Regions from separate parts of the Homo sapiens genome. Here region 2 is linked to region 1. The links come from fine-mapping of genetic effects on gene expression. A gene starts in region 1. The other region holds a variant in brackets. All regions are shown on one strand. Distances are from middle to middle.

Region 1 (2,910 bases):
GGGTAAAAGGTGCTGCAGGGGAAAGAGAATGGGGTATGGCATTATATGAAAACACTCTATTTCAGCGTCAGCCCACATACAGAATTCCAAAGAGCCAAGGAGCATCCAAATTGCCGTAGTAAAGGCAAATATTTAGATTCACAAAGTCCAGACTGAATTATCACATATCTAGAAACATACTTTTTAAAGAAATCAGGGATTAAAAACTAAGAAGAGCGTAAAATCCTTTAGAACCGCGAGATACTTTGAGGGTAAACCCTAGCACTTCCTTTCGTACTTTTAAATAAAAATATTTTAGTAGACTCTCAAGAATACACAATACAAAACGATGAATCTTGAAAACATGCAAATGGGTCTAACAGCCACCGAGCACAGGATGATGTCTTTCTAAAGCAGCCTTAATTTCCTTAAGGGAAGATGGATTGGACATTTCTGGTTGGTCGTGGGGGAAAAAAGCCACAAGAAGCCACGCTTTATCTTCATTAGAAATGGTAAAGGGCAAAAAGATCAAAACATTATGAGAGAGATCGGAGAAAAGAGGGGGAGAAGTGGGGTGGGCGGGAAGGGGGAGAGGACAGAGGGAATCCAGTTTCAAACCAGGCCAGTGGGGGCTGCAGAGAAGAGACCAGAGAAAAATGGGCTTCGGTTCCAAACTGTGACAAGCGCCAGGCATCACAAAAGACCAATACAACACACACCCCTCACCAGGACACACACAAATATACCCCACAAGGTCTTCTCCGGGCGGGCCACCGGGGTGCGGCGGCGAAGGAGCCAAACCCGGCACTCGCCAGGAGACACACCATGTGCAGCAATTATGCAATTAGGGAAAATAGCAAAAGATCAAGCCGGGCACTTTCCACCGTGACATTTATCCTGTACTTTTGAAAAGACTTAGTTCCAGGATGCGGCTAGGAGAAGGAAAGCGCTGGGAGGGTTGAGAAGGATGGGGAACTGAGAACGGAAGGGGGTAGAAGGAGGACAGGGAGAGAAGAGGCAGAAGGGGGGGATGGGAAGAAGGGGGAGGGGTAGAAAGGGCGAGAAACGGGGGCAGGAGGCTCGCGGGAGGGGGCGTAGGGAACCGGGCACGGGGAGCGAGGAAGGAGGGAACTAGGGCACGAGCGGTGTAAGCAGAGACCTGCGACGCGGAGGGGAGGTCGGGGGAGTGAGGAGGACGTCAGCGAGAGGGAGGACGCCCGAGGAGGGGAGGCACCGGCGCGGCCCGAGCGAATACCTGAGGGGGGGGTGTCCGTGCAGGTCGCAGGCTCGAGCCGAAGCCCTGGGAGAGAGCTGCCCAGGCGCGAGGGGGAGGGAGACTGGGGAGGCCCCAGGGACGGGATGTCCCCTGCGGACCGTCTAGTCACCGAAAGCCGGACCCACGCACCACGCACCCGACCACGCCTGTCCCCGCCGCGCTCGCGCCCGCCCGGACTCACCCTCAGCGCCGCCGCTGCCGCCGCCCCCGGCCGTTCCAGCTCCGGCTCCTGAGGCTGCTGCCCGCGGCTGTCGCTGTGGCTGCCCCTGAGTCCTGGAAAGTGAAGCCACCACCTCCGGGAGCCGCCGCCGCCCGGCCGTCCGCGCGCGCACCCGCGAGTGCGCGTGCCTGCGCGCCCGCCCGGGAGAGACCGCGAGAGCGCGAGCCCCACGTCGGCCATGCGGCGCCGCGCGCCTCCCTCCTCCCCCCGCCCCTCCTCCTCCGGCGCGCGGCCGCGAGGGGGCGGGGGCGGGAGCGCGCCCGGGCGGGCTGCCCCGCCGGTCGGGAGAGGGGGTGGGGAGGCGGCGAGGAAAAGTAAAGTGACAGCTGGGTCCCGCGCGCAGACTGGGCTCTGACGGGGGTGAGCGAGGGGCGTCCCACGGGGAAGGAACGACAAGGACGGGGAGAAGTGGGGGAAACCGAGGCTGACGGGGTGGCTTGAGGGGAGGGGACGCGAGGACCTTGCCGGGCACGCGCATTAAAGGGAAACGCCGGCTGGGGGTTAGGGGTTACCCCAAGACGGTGCAGGCAGTGGGACGAGGAGGCCTTTTACCCCCATCCACCGCAGCCCTTGACTTCACGCTCGCCTCGAAGCTTTCGCAAAGTAGATACGGGGACTGACCCTGTTGACACACTAACCCAAACTCGCAGACGCGTGGGGCTCGCATGTACCCAAGACAGGAAAACTTCACGTTGGCCTGGAAACTTCTTCCAGGCTAAGCCTGAGTCTTCACCAGACACTGCAGCACGAAGGCCCTTCTGCCTTTTGGCTCGCCCTGGCCCAGAATGCGCACCAGCCGGTAGAGAGGAGCTTCGGGCCGTTTAGCCCTGGGGTATTGAAGAGAGGGGTGGGGGTACAGGGTGCACCACTGTCAGAGTGAGTGGGAAGCTGCCTTCATGCCCAGTTGAAGGATATGGGAACAGTAGCAGTGCTGTAGGTGGCATGAGGGAACATTAGGTTCCGTTGTACTCCTCATCCCAAATAACCGTTTAAAAAAAAAAAAAAAACGTACCTGCTTTGCGAACTTAGCTTCCACGAAATTTCTCCCACTCCAACCTCCAGCCTCACTTACCAACGGAATGCTGGGTCGTTGGCAACGGGGTGTCCAGGGATGCAGCAAAATTAACTTCTATCTTTGTGGAGGAAAGGATTGGAAGATCTTTCACTGCTTAATTGCTGAAATTATGGTTGCTACAGTACTTCATTTGACTGTAGATGTTTTAACTGCTATTTACTAAGTTCAAAATGGGTTTAATACAAATCAGTTACCCTTTTCATTTATTCAAGGAATATTTATTGATACCAGGCACTGTCTAGGTGGTAGATATATGACATTGAATAAAAGAAAAAAATCCTTGTCCTCAGAACTTCCCTATGTCTGAACCTTCTCTGTTGTACACTCAGCATCACATTCGTCAGCAAATTCTGTTGACTC
Region 2 (2,910 bases), 90 kb after region 1:
TACTTGTAAATTAATACATTGATAAGTAACTCTATCAAGACAATCATAAGTCTAGATCATGTTTTCTCCCATTCAAACAACACCAGGGGTCAGTAAGCCTTTTCTGCAAAGGGCCAAGTAGTAATATTTTTGGCTTTGCTGGCCATATGGTCTCTGTCATAAGTACTCAACTCTTGTTGTAGAACAAAAGCAGCCACAGACAATTTGTAGACAAATGGATGTGGCTGTGTTCCAACGAAACTTTACAAAAACAGGTGGTGAACCCATAGGCTGTAGTTTGTCGACTCCTGGTAGATACACAAGATTGTGCTGTGTATGAAAGCAGATTGTGGTTGGAGGACATACACATCAAAAATCCTTTTGGCTTTTATTTTGGTATTTTTCTGCCATTGTCCATGGATTCAAGCTGTTTCTACTTCATATTATCATTTAGAGATAATGTTGTAAGAGTCTCTTCCATTTTTGTTGAGGAAAGCACAGAACTTCAGAGGCAATCTGCTTCTGTCTATGCTATGTTCTTTAGAGTTTAGCATACCACCTAGGATTAATAAATGCTAAATAATAATCATTTTTTCATTTCACTGCCATATCCTTTATGGCATCTCCTTTGGCACCCTCGGAGGTATTAACCTGTAGCTTTTACAATGTTCTATTACACATTGTCAGCAGTACCTTGCTGATTAAATCACACTCAGGAGAGAGTTAACTACAAGGCTGTAAGTATCCCTGACAGGTTGTTCTTGCACGGGCTTGGCTTTTCTTGTATGAAGATTAAGAATCTTGTCACAGCTGGTAAAAAATGAAGTACACGTAAAACCACTGAGCATACATAACTCACAAAAGGCACTTCCCTAAAAGTCAGAATTCAGATGAGCAGAGTAGATTATATAAAGGAAAGGATGACTATGAAGTGATGAACAGGTATTTCATCATCTTGGGTGTAGTGATGACATAGCCTTTTGTGGCTGTTTGTGTTGGAGGAGTGTCTTCTAACCCATGTAAAACTTTCATGATTAATCCAAGGATTTCATGTTTATAACTTCATTTAGTCAGATCCAGGCTAGTAGTCCCATTTTTTGGTATTTGTCCTGAAGATGAGCTTTTTTTCTTTTTTTGCCATGAATCTAATTTTTCTTTTCTACCATCCTTAGTGCAATGGTTAGAAAACTCTTTTTGCTCTCCTTCCAGATTCTTTGCTTAAACTGGACTTGTGCCCAAAGCAGCAGGAGATGCTGT[C/G]CCATAAAGCCAGAACATTTTATAAGTACTGGCAGTGACGGTTTATTACTTCATTCCGAAAACAACACAGAGAGCCCACTAAAGGAGGTCCGGGGGAGAAGGGGAGCCATGGAACAGTGCATCTGGGAGAAGTGCTGACCGCCAGGCTACCGAGTCAGTTGGGCTGTGTTGCTTTTGCGGCTTCATGCCTCGGGTGGTGATGAGCATAAAGGCCAGTGGGAATTTGACTGTTACAAGTTGTGATAAGAAAGCAACTAGTTAGGAGATTCACCTGCCAACCAGGCAAGACTGGGGCTGGTCAGGCAGACTCTATGATTTGAATTTATTAATTTATTAATAGATAGATGATTCTGGTAGTCTTAAACAGTAATCAATGTGGCTGAGAAAGTCTTTTAATTTTGAGAGAGTAAATATATATATATATATATATATATATATATATATATATGCCTGAACAAACCAGATAGATCTTTGTTTTTGCCATCCAGAATCAGCCATTATTAAGAGTTTGTCATATTTGTTTCTAGTCCTTCCATAAATGAAAGAGAGCCAGCATTAAAGATCAAGTTGAAGCTTTCTGTTTCTCATCCCTTGTTCTTTTTCCTCTCTCACCCAAAGTAACCACTATAATTAATTTTGTGGGTGTTTCAGTCAGGATCCTGGTGGGGAGCAGATGTCACACTTGAGGTGAATAATTTGGAGGAGTATTCATTAAAAATGCCATTTACACAGGTGTGGGCAGAATGTAGGGAAATCGCAGTGGGTATCCGAGTGCTAATACCCCTAGGCCTAAACGGGAGAAGGGAGAGAAGAGTTACTGGATTCCAGAGGAGACAATGGCACAGAGTGGGCAGTCTTCACAGGATCTGTGTCCTTTGGTTGAGGGACACAACCTGCCTCAGGCTGCACTGCAGGGAGGGAGCTGGCAAATCAACACCCCAGTCTCATTCTCCTCTGTCCTTTAGTCTCCTGGCCCTGCCCCTACTGGCCACACCCAACCAGGAGCCAGAAGGCAGCTGACATAGTCCATACAGGCCTGGGCAAGGAGGAAGTTGGGAAATGGACCCAGAGGGGACAAGTGTAAGACATCCAGCACAGCCAGCATCCTGAAACTATAGCAGACAGTATGTAGCAGAGTCAACAAACTTTTTCTGTAAAAGGCACAATAATACATATTTTAGTTTTTGTGAATGACATACAGTCTCTGTCCTATATTCTTCTTTTTCAATTTTTACAAACCTTTAAAAATGTGAAAACTGATCTTAGTTTATGAGCTGTAAAAAACAAGACATGGGCTTGATATACCCGGGGGGTGCAGTTTGCTGATTCCCTAACATATATGATATCAGTTTTGTGTATTTTTAAAATGTTTACATGATGTATACTATATTTTATTTCTTTTCTAATGCTATGTAGCAAATTATTTCAAACTTAGTGGCTTATAAGAACACTCATTTATTATATCACACAGTTCCATAGATCAAAATTCCAGGTGGGCTCATAAATGATTATTTAGATAGGAGCAATTAAAGTCTTGGTTAGCGTGTTATACTAACTTGGCTTTAGTGGTGAAAATCTAGTAGAGGTATTTTTATCCATGGGACTTCCCAATAGTCCTCAGATTATGTCCAGTGATGTCAACGACTGAGCCCGGCCACATAGCTGAATCTAGCC

The links. PIP is the estimated chance that this variant, and not a neighbour inherited with it, causes the effect.
Region 2: its variant is fine-mapped to the expression of UBE2E2 in skin (TwinsUK, PIP 0.92).

Annotation. Positions count from the first base shown.
Region 1 is chr3:23,201,789-23,204,698 of GRCh38, reverse strand. It overlaps UBE2E2 (ubiquitin conjugating enzyme E2 E2), which reads right to left and starts at 1,372. Exons shown (of 6, transcript NM_152653.4): 1 at 1,235-1,372. UBE2E2-DT (UBE2E2 divergent transcript) reads left to right here and starts at 1,706. Exons shown (of 2, transcript NR_136176.1): 1 at 1,706-1,835. RefSeq lists a silencer at 1,212-1,901 and enhancers at 2,252-2,311, 1,724-2,699.
Region 2 is chr3:23,112,001-23,114,910 of GRCh38, reverse strand. No RefSeq gene overlaps it. Among named protein-coding and RNA genes, the nearest start is that of UBE2E2-DT, 90 kb to the left of the region's middle. The variant C/G (reference allele first, on the strand shown) is at 1,237.